2 linked regions of the Homo sapiens genome follow. Each later gene encodes a partner of the first gene's protein in a complex. Each region holds a gene or a part of one and is shown on either strand. Other genes may lie near its edges.

Region 1 (6,960 bases):
CAGCATTTTGTTAAGCTTCATAACCCCATCTGTAAAATGATAATAATGACGATTATTTTTGTCATTGAGTGATTAAGTACATATATAATTTTAGCTAATGATTATTTATTATAATTATTATTCAATGGAATGTTAAACATTGCTGTTGGGGAGTGGGGCTCTAGGGGATGACTCTGGTTTTCTCCATTTTGCTTACCATTATATAATTTTTCATATTTAGATGTATTGTGTACTAAGGAATATGAGTTGGAGTTTTTTAAAAAAACATTTAATTGAAAATATGTATGTTAAAATATGCTTTAGCTCTTCTCTCCTACAAATGGTTTTATTGCTCACCAACAGTCACCAGTCCAGGCTAAATTCATTTTTTTTACTTCACTGAACAGTGCTTGTCTGCATTGTTTCACCACTGGTCAATACTTCACATGCTCTATGCAATCAGAAAATGATTCCAAGGACACTTATCAATCAAAATGCACAAGCCTCCCTCTCAATGCTTGGTATTTATTCCTGACGCATGTGCTTCTATCAGACAGAGAGAGTGTTATAGGTATTAGCAATTCACAGGCACTTCTTAGAAATGCTGGAAAGGAGTTCTTATTTTTGCTGTGAGGGTGTTGCCCTATTATCAACACCTCATCTTCCTGTATCATCTTCCGACAATCTTTGTGAGAATTTGATTTGCTATCTTAATGCTAGTGAGACTCAGGCACTGATGCATTTATACCTGGGCTCTGAGCAGGGCTGAAATGGTAGTGAGCTGATGTTTTACTCAACAAGAAAATAATCAGTGAAATATATCTTTGAAATAGATTATTATCCTATTTGTAAAAAGGAATTAAAAGCATATAAAACCAGAACTTAGCCTTTACTCTTTGGAATGCAAAATGCAATTGTGTTCTTCATAAATGATCTCATGACAAGTGATTTAGCAAAAAAAGTGCATGACAGAGAAACTGCATTTTAGACAAAACCGCTTTGAACCTATTTCACCTATTAAAGGAAAGATTGCTAATTGGACATAAATGTTAATAAAAGACATGTGACAAAAATCTTCAAGATATTTTTTCTTTTATTTAAAATGTTAGCTATCACAACACATCATACAATGAAATGAAGACATTAGAATCACATTGAAACTTTTAAAAACATCTCTATATAGTCACAAAACATGAAACATGCTTCAGAGATACAAATACAGTGTAATACCAAAATCTCAGTACATTTTCACCATGAAAACAAATAGGAAAAGCACAAGACTGTCAGGAGTTTCCTTCCTTTTCCGCAGTAGCTGACACAACTGCTTCAAAGCAATGATTTTTTTTCTTTAGGGACTGTATCATTGACAGGTTTTACAATTTCATTTAACACTGTGCTTTGTTGAGAAATAACCACTTATTTCTATTTTAAGGGAGTCATCATATTGGAATTAAAACACATGTTTACAATACATATTGGCACAATATGAAAAATAAACACTTTTTGAATTTTCAACCCCAAACAATTGTTATTAAATAAATAATTATTCCTCATAGTGCATGTCTTAATTTACCTGTCATTGCCCATTGACACAAATGAAGCTGAATAAATAATGTTAGGTAGTTTATTAACGTCTTCTTTCATAATTCTGCATTGCACTCCTTTCATAAGCCACTGAAAACAAAGAAGAGATAAAGTGTTTTTTAAGTGAATTCACTGAGGGAGTTACACAACTAAAGTTCAGGGCATATAGTAATTTATTTTAAACTCATAATGACATTTTCCCTCTACAGAAGTATTTCTAAGAATGTTATCTGCACATCTTCCAATCCTGCCTCAGTCTCTATTCTGATTGGAAATGATCTAACCACAGAACTCGGTTTCATTCATCATTCATCATATACTTGGTGCCCCCAAAGCATATTTCCACAATATATTGCAGTGTTGATTCTCAGCAGCTTTCTCAAGCAGTGGCAGATACCCATAGTGAATTCTAGAAAGGACAATGCCTAAAATAACCAGGAATACTAGTAGGATAAAAACCAAATGTGGGACTTTTATTCTAGCAGAGACCATGGGCCAAATCTAGAATACCATTTGTTCTTGTAAAGAGGTTTATAGGAATACAGACACACTCATTCATTTACATATTGTCTATGGCTGCTTTGGCCTAAAATAACAGATTTGGGTAGTTGCAACAGAGATTACATGGCTCACAAAGCCTAAAATATTTATAATCTGTTTCTTTTCAGGAAAAGTTTGCTGATCTTTGTTCAAGGGGCATCTAATTGTGTAGGGGTCTCTTCCTACCTTGTGGATACCTCCCAGTGATGGACTGCCCTCAAGACTAAAAACAGCCCATTTACCATAGGTAAGTCAGTTGAGCCATCTAAATACCATACTGTTTAACTTTTCACTAGCACCTTAATGGCCTGTGAAGCATTAATTATTGCTTCCAAAGGTATTTAACATATAGCTAGCAAGTAATTTAAATACATTGATTATCTGGACAAAAAAATGCCAAAATTGTATATTATATTATATTATATTTATTATATATAATTTCAAAGGGATCTGTAACCACAAAGGGGTAAAAATCAGACTGTTGCAATAAAAGTATTTTGGGATATTTTTCATCCTTAACGAATACCTTATAGACTTAGACGTATGGTATAGTGGAACTACTATGCTTTTTGAAATTCAGTATGGCCTGTATAAAATACTGAATGTAAACAGAAAGAGTAGAAAGATCTGTGAAGGATCTGTAGGAATAATAAGTGCTACTCTAAACAGTTTCCTCAGTGAGAAGATTTGCTGACAGAGAAGACAGGTAAAGGCACCAGTATTATCACTTCCCTCTTTTAATACTGGTCTTAAACACCCAGCTATCCTTTAAGTGCGGTTAACAATAAGCTGCATATTTTACATCAATTAAGTATGCACTTGTGAGGCAGAACAGTCTGAGCCAACACTGGACAGGCGTGAGGGAAGGAAACAGTTTATTTCTCATTCTGGTTTGATTATATTAGGAACAGGATGAATGGCCCAAGTTCAGTCTCTGACAAGCTTTAGGTAACATGACTCTATTCCTCAGAGAAATTAGATGAAAGCTAATGTAAACCAACTAAAGACAGACAGTGATTTAGCTGGAACATAATGTCCTCTTACATGGAAGCAGAGTTTCTTACCTGGTCTTTGAACCCTCTGAAGCCTGATATAAATTTTTGAGTGTATGAGCTGATGAGGGTTTCTCTGGGAAAGGGCATCTATCTAGATTTATCAGATTGTCAAAGGGGTCCCTGACCATGAGTGGGTAAAGATCAGAGGGCTATAGATTAAGGCTATGATAACCTTGCCTCAATGAGGTACATAAAAAGATCCCTGATTGACTGTGGATCATATCACATTTTTTTCCACATTTCACCTATTTATATTTCCTTAACTAAAATGGAGGAACAAAGATTTAGTTATAAATTGATCCTGATTCACTACAGTGATTTTTATCACTACTTAAAATTATGTTATTATTTTAAGTACATTTAATTGTATTTAATCTGTTCTAACTTGTACAATATCTACATTTGTAAAGTTAAGCATGTTCTGAAACCTATATCAATTCTGGAAATGGAAAGTTGATGACTAATATGATTATCAAGAAAACTACAATTAAGTGAGGACTAGTATGTATTGGTACAAATAAAAGCCATTGTGGTTTAAATTTATATTTCATTTCCAAAAGTGGGAAGATAATACATATTAATAAAACAATTACAAGTTTTTCATTAAGGCACATTGATAATTTCTTACACTTTTACACTTCGGCAGCCCAAAATGACTGGTGAGAAGATGCAAAGGTAGTGTCTAAATAGAAAGTGGGGACCCAATAAGAACACTAGGAAGTCCTGTGGACTTCACCAAGAACTTCAAATTCCAGATTTATTGGAAATTTTGTATCAAAAGGTCAATTATGAAACACTTAGAACTTTTCAATTATATGAATATATTCTCTGGCTTCTGCCGTAGCCCAGATTGTGTTAACTTTTTTTTTCTATTGCGCGTTTTGATTTTTGCCCCACAGAAAGTGGTTTTATTTAATGTACCCAAGTCTTACATTTCACAATAAAGAAAAAAATCTCCATTAAAAAACACTAGGATAATTATTTTTCCTAGGATCCAGATAATTAAGGATTAAGCCAGCACATCTTATAGATTGTCTAGAAACTGGAAATATTCTAAATGGGTAAGACAGCTGCTGATTACTTTATAATTAATAACGTATTTAGTATTTTAATTCTATTTTCACTGAAGGCAAAATAGAATTTGAATAGCTTTTCCAAGAAGCCCTAGAGGTAAGAGCTATAAGGTCTTAACAAAAAGTGAGCTTCTATTAAAATGATCTAGGGGTTATTTACATTGAAATCAGTGTGATGAATGAGTTAACTAATAATGGTTTTCAGATATATGTACGTGGTATTTACAAAGAAGATGGAAATTGAAGAGAAGGAAACCTGCAGCCTTTATATCATACGAAAAAGTTGTTCAGAATTAAAATGAGAATTGTGGCATCCTTTCTCTCTAAGGAGTTTATAGCCAGAACCAATTTATAACACTCAAGGATATTTAATTGTGTTCCTTTTTGAAAGTACTGGAATAAACCGTATCACTTTTGTCCTCTCCAACATCCATCAGGATGTTTAGATTTTGAATTTCTACAACTTCATAAAAAGTGATTAATTTGCATAAAGAATTTGTTTTGTGAATTTATTTTTGTATTGGAAGATCGCCAAATGTAATGTCTTGTAAAACTTTCAAATTACTTTGATAACAAGTGAAAATCACCCTCATTCTTCCCTGCACTCCCCACTCCCCCTTAGTTCAGTAAGGTTAAACACGGCTTATTTAACAGATCTATAGGAAAGAATATAGCACTAACCCAAAGATTCAGGTTGGTAATGATTAAATGGGGCAGACACTGGTAAGAATGGTGATTGGAGAGAAATAGACAGATACTGTGGTAGTATTAGCTTAACCAGCTATAAATCCATTTGTGGTTACAAGTACAACAATTAAATTTTTCCACCATAATACTCATTTTTATATCTACCACTCCTTTTTAATATTTTAAAACTATGTCTTAGAAAAAATAGAAATAGATTTGAGATACTGTCTATTTTCAGTCATAATTTCATACATACCAGAATTTAAAGCTCTTTTGCCCATTAGTCCAACAAAGGAATCTGTTTTATGTCCTGGAAAAATACATTTAGGGGTATTTTAATATGTATATCTTTGAGGAAACAAACTATTATAACCAGAACAAAGCAAGCTTCTGAATATATGTCTGTATAATAAATATCTATCTACTTCAAGTTTTGGTGAGACTGAAGAAATAAAGATTCCTTAAAAGTTTTATAAATTACACTAAAACAATACAATGAAACCACTTTTCTTAATTCTATATTTAATATTAGCAAGCACTCTCTATTCATATATTTTATCTGTTATGTAAGGGTCTAAAATATTTTATATAAAATATTGTTATTTGAGCTAGGTTTGATTTTTTAGGAAGTCAATTTCACATTTGTGTGAGAGTGAAATATCCAAGCATAATTCCTTGTGTTATTAATAAGTTGTACTTCTCAGCAAGTAGACCTTAATTAAACCAGATTCCTTTCCTTGATGATTATAATCTTCTAAAAGGTCACTGTTTTTATTTTATTGGATATTAAAAGATACTCCTTTCAGAAAAGTTTATTAGTTTTCACATGAACAGAGTACATTTTTTATTACATAGAATTTTTATATATAATTCTCTTCAAAGTCAAATCCTTAGAAAGTAAATATGAATACTATTTATTTTTCAAAGATGAACTCTTTGGAAAGGTTACTATTTTAATGCTAGTGAGAGAATTTCTCTTGGTTTTTATTTTAATAGTTGAGAATAGAGCTGCTACGTTAATGTGGCCTGCTCTGCCACCCAATGAACCAAATCCATGACAGGGTACAATAGGTGAGTGGACAATACGATGAAGATAGACCCTTTCCACTTCTTGTCAACTCCGGTTCCATTAACTGAGAAACAAATTTAATGACCTTCACATACCACAATTTTGCCATCTTTGCTGCCCTAAGAAATGTTTTACTGATCGAGTTTTCCCATTCAATTAGGGGATTAAAAAACTGCATCTCTACCGTCTTCATTTTTAGTATGGATTCTCTACTCATGTTCACTCACTCATTCCATTTAATTGGCTGCTGGATGACCCTAATAAATGACATCATTATTGGACCAAGCATACTAAAATGAGTTAGGAGATGCCTATAAATGCTTGTGGGGGTTTCGTGTTTGTTTGTTTGTTTGTTTACAGTGAAAGTAAGCTTAGGGGGTGGGTGGCTGGGAAGAAATATGTATGGTAGATTTCTAATCCTAGGATTGAAATTCTTCTCTAAAACTAACAATTGAAGGGACTTAAAAGACATTTTTTTCTTTTTTAATATAATGCATCTCTTTGCTAAGTACAATATGTCTAAACAACCATATTCTGGATGTAATATGAATCTCCCCCATTCTTATATTGTCTTCATTAAACATATTAAGCCCTAGAGTCATGACAGAAAATAAGGTAAGATAAATAAAGTGAAATTCAATATAATTTTACATTTAAATTTGATAAATGTCAAAATAATTTTGAACTTACTTTTGTGAGAGATCTGGCCATGTCCTAGAAGAAAGATAAAATTAGCAAACACATATAGATTTGTTTTTAAAGATGCTACATTATATCTTTTATAAAATAATTTGATTCTCAAAATATGTAACATTTTCTATCTATATATTATCCTGAGGAATAAAGCAGAACCATAAATGCTAAACAAATTATTAATCATAAAAACTAAATATTTAAACAAACAAATGGAATTTTTATTAAGTGCCTTCTATGGGATTCAAACCTAGGACTATGAGACTTCTGAGGCCTCTTA
Region 2 (3,558 bases), on another chromosome or scaffold:
GGGCATCAGGCCTGGCCATTCTGTTAACGTGCAATGTCTCTCTGGGCAATCTTTGCACGTGTTGGGCTGGGAGCTGCACCACAGTCTGAGGCTCTTCCTAACCACCCCTTTTTTCCCAGGTGTCAGATTGGCATGGTGGTTTGAAGGCTGTCCCTGAGTACTTCTGCTTTCTTTCCCCTTTGTCTTTCTCAGATGTTATTCCCCCCAACCTCCTGTCCTACGAAAACTCTTGTGCTTATAACTCTGTTGTGTCTGCATCCTGACACAGCTTTATTCATAGGCAACATCACTGTCATTTCGCATAATCCCACCTCCCTTCCCAGATCTCAACCTGGGAACTGTTCCCACATCTTCCCAACCCATTTCATCACAGAGTTAAGAGTTTACTGAACATTGATTCCATCCTTCTAGCTATGCAAGTTATTAGGGTTTCTAGTACCATCCCATTTAGCATCCTATAGGATGTTTAGGACCCCTAGAGAAGAGACAGAGGCACGAGAGAGTGAAACACATACTTTATTTCTGTATAAAGATTCTTTCCAGGAGACCAGGCTGGAAAACACGGAAACCTCAGGAATGGCCCCTCTCCACTTATACTCCTCTCCTCACAAATCAGGCCAATGAGGTCAGTTCCTGAGTCCCCTTTCTCCAGGATTCCACTCAGTCCTTGTCTCTTAGTGTCCTGTTGGGGGATAAGGAGGAGAAGGACTCTTGTTCTCTAGCTTCTCCGATAAAGGCCCCCCCACCGCCCCTCAATTACTGTGGTCTAGGAACTGTGAGTTCATGATATACATCAGGGCTCCTCCCTGAGAAAGCATGAGGAGGAAGAGGAGGAAGAGATTCACACAATACAAATATCACAGTGACAGCAATGAGATCTCACATTTTGGAAGTCACGTAACAAAGATGGTTCCTTGATATTTCATATTCTATTACTACTGGACATTACACCAAGTAAACACACTTGGATAAACACAGGGTGATGCATTTCTAGAATAAGAATGTGACCCATGCACAGTACAAATCATGGTGTTTCTTACATGTGGGAGTTGATGACATTTTTATAAGTTAGTGGACATTGGAGACTGGGTCAGAGGAAGGCTTGCTGGCACTGTCCAAGCAGATGCTTTGCCATATTGGAAACTGCCCGGACCACCCAACATTCCCTCTTACTATGCACAGAGATGATACTGTTCAACCAAATTCCTTTAGGTCCCCTGGACTGACTGCCAGCTCCCTTTGGAAGTACCCCAGAGAACTCTCATTCCAGAGGCTCTCCAAAGGTCCCAGTCTTTGGCTTGACTGCCCATGTTGAGTGTGGGTTTTTAGAATTCTGTGGAGAATCTGTCCTCTCAGATGCCTCCAAGACTGCTGGGCAGCTTAGACTCACTAGGACTGGTGAGTTAGTTAGTGATGGCCAATAAGGTAGGCTCTTCAAGAGCTGCAGGGGCTGTGTGTTCCCAGTTCAGGGCAAAGTCCAGAGGAGGCACTCAGTTAATCCTCGTTGAGCTCAACTCTAACCTTCTCTTCCATAGATGGGGTGTCCCCAACTTCTTGACACCATCTTCTCAGGTACTTCTCATAATCATGTTAGCTCTTTACATTCTTCCAAAGTGAGTAATCCATACACAGCAAGATTCTCTATTGGAAGTATGACTAATGCTTAGGGCACTAACTTTTGTTGCTTCTAAATTTTGTCTTCCATTTATATATCTGCAATGATCTGGCTTCACTTAGTTTATTTAAAACTTTCCATGCTGCTTTAGAGAATGTAGTTCTTGAGGTTTTCTGGCTTATACTGTTTCTTCTTCCCCCAGGCCTGTGGATGCCCTGGTAGAATTAGAGCCAGCAGGGCTGGCAAAGGCTGTAAACCATGCATTATTCTCCCCTTAATGTTATGGATGCGGCACATGTGCATCCATTATGCAAACTACCAGGAGGACATTCATGGATGTTACATGAAGCTTCTGCTTCCAGCCATATCTGGAAAAAACACAGATTTGGGAGACAGAAAAAAAAACAAAACAAAACTGCATGCTCACCTTCTGGAAACTCTAAATCTAAATTAGGATATAAAGCATTCAGTTCATGGCTCTTGGAAGACTGACTGTCCTTTAGGGTTGATGAGTCATTCTACCCCTTAGAGACAGGAAGCTGGCAAAGCCATGGAGCAGGGAGGAGACATTCAGAGAGTCTGAAGGGAAGATGCAAGATGCCCTCTTCCCAGAAGTGCAGCTGCAAAGTGCAGCCTTCTTGCTTGTCGCACATATGAGCACGATGCTAGTGTAAAACTAAGAATGAAGGTTAGGGCCCCCACCCTAAAATACCCAAAAGGTTAAAGCAGGGAGCCCACATTTGTCTTCTCTGACAGTGTTCTGCAGCTATGAAATTCTGCCTGCTAAAGCTGGATGGATGCAGGCCTTGGCATGAAGTCCTCTGCTCTGTCAAAAGCCAAAACCTTCCATGAGAAGGAATGTACTCAGGATTTTAAGATAAATCGGAGAATGTCTGAGATGGATAGTTACAGATGGCCTTAGCAGTTGCTACATCTCCAGGAACTGGGTATTAGTTACAAGACTCACTGCTCCTATTCTTTTCTATTCTTTTATTCTTCGTTTTGTTTTTTTTTGTAAAACAAACAAAAAACTCATACAATCCTTGAACCACGGGATGTTAAGATTCGAAGGAACACTTAGATTATCTAGTTCAGTCCCCTTGTTTACAAGTAGGAAAAGAGGGTCAACTACACATTAAATGTAGTGCAAGTCTCCCAATTCCTGGTCTGTAAGAGAACTAGCAGGTATCAGTGGACATATTCTGCTTGCGTCGGCTGCTCAGGACAGTCACCGGGGACATAATGTGGAAGCCCGAGGTTCTCAATCTCATGATGTATAAATGTACTGAAATACTGAGATGCCAAAAAGGGGAATACATATGTTTCTTTTCACAGATGCTTAGAAGACAGGGCTAAATTTTTCATTTAGATGTTATGTGGTGCCTTCTTTTGTTCACCCTGTCAAGCGTAGGCTGGGGTGATAGGAGCCTCCAGCTGCAGGAGGCTAATCTGAGATAACTTTATTGAAGTAACACGGGGCTCCAGGAAAATGAGTCTTCCGGGTCCGCAGCTGTGCTGCAGAATTCATCCTGAAATGAGCACTCGCATGCAGCCAAAGTCACTTCCAGAATGGAATGAATGGGCTTTTGGGAAAAGCTGGTCCGACCTTTTATTTTACAGGCTCAGCAAAGTTCAGTGATTTGGTTTGAGTCACACAGCATGAGGGTGGCAAAGATAGGGAAGAATTGAGATTTTTTGACTCAAGGATGGAATGTTTTCCCTAACCCATACTGACCCTTTTTGCAAGTCCCAGTGTGAGGGTGTTTCTGATGGTTCCAGATGAAGGGAATTTCCATGCATGAAGGGAGGCAGGTCAAAGGCAGTGGGGGCTGCACCTGCCAAAGGCCCTGTGGCCTAGGAGAGCACATTGGAGGAGAAGCTGAAGCTCTCTGTCATGGTCTTGGAGTCACTTCGTGAAGAGCAGTTGGAGGTCAGGTCCAGGG

The links. Proteins that work in one complex are often made in the same cells at the same time.
Region 2: the proteins of TAC1 (region 1) and TACR1 are in contact, whole or in part, in a cryo-EM structure (PDB 7P02), measured with the Homo sapiens proteins. Residues at the interface, in NP_003173.1 of Homo sapiens: Lys60, Pro61, Gln62, Gln63, Phe64, Phe65, Gly66, Leu67, Met68; in NP_001049.1 of Homo sapiens: Gln24, Phe25, Asn85, Asn89, Tyr92, Ala93, Asn96, Trp98, His108, Asn109, Ile113, Gln165, Met174, Arg177, Val179, Cys180, Met181, Ile182, His197, Val200, Phe264, Phe267, Phe268, Tyr278, Leu279, Ile283, Gln284, Tyr287, Met291.

What each region holds. Positions count from the first base shown.
Region 1 is NC_000007.14:97,734,567-97,741,526, reverse strand, and holds the end of TAC1 (protachykinin-1 isoform beta precursor), read right to left. Parts: intron 6,702-6,960; coding exon 6,678-6,701; intron 5,229-6,677; coding exon 5,175-5,228; intron 1,654-5,174; coding exon 1,607-1,653; 3' UTR 1,055-1,606; downstream 1-1,054. UniProt on the Homo sapiens protein: Tachykinins are active peptides which excite neurons, evoke behavioral responses, are potent vasodilators and secretagogues, and contract (directly or indirectly) many smooth muscles.
Region 2 is NC_000002.12:75,045,963-75,049,520, forward strand, and holds the end of TACR1 (substance-P receptor), read right to left. Parts: coding exon 3,470-3,558; 3' UTR 501-3,469; downstream 1-500. UniProt on the Homo sapiens protein: This is a receptor for the tachykinin neuropeptide substance P. It is probably associated with G proteins that activate a phosphatidylinositol-calcium second messenger system.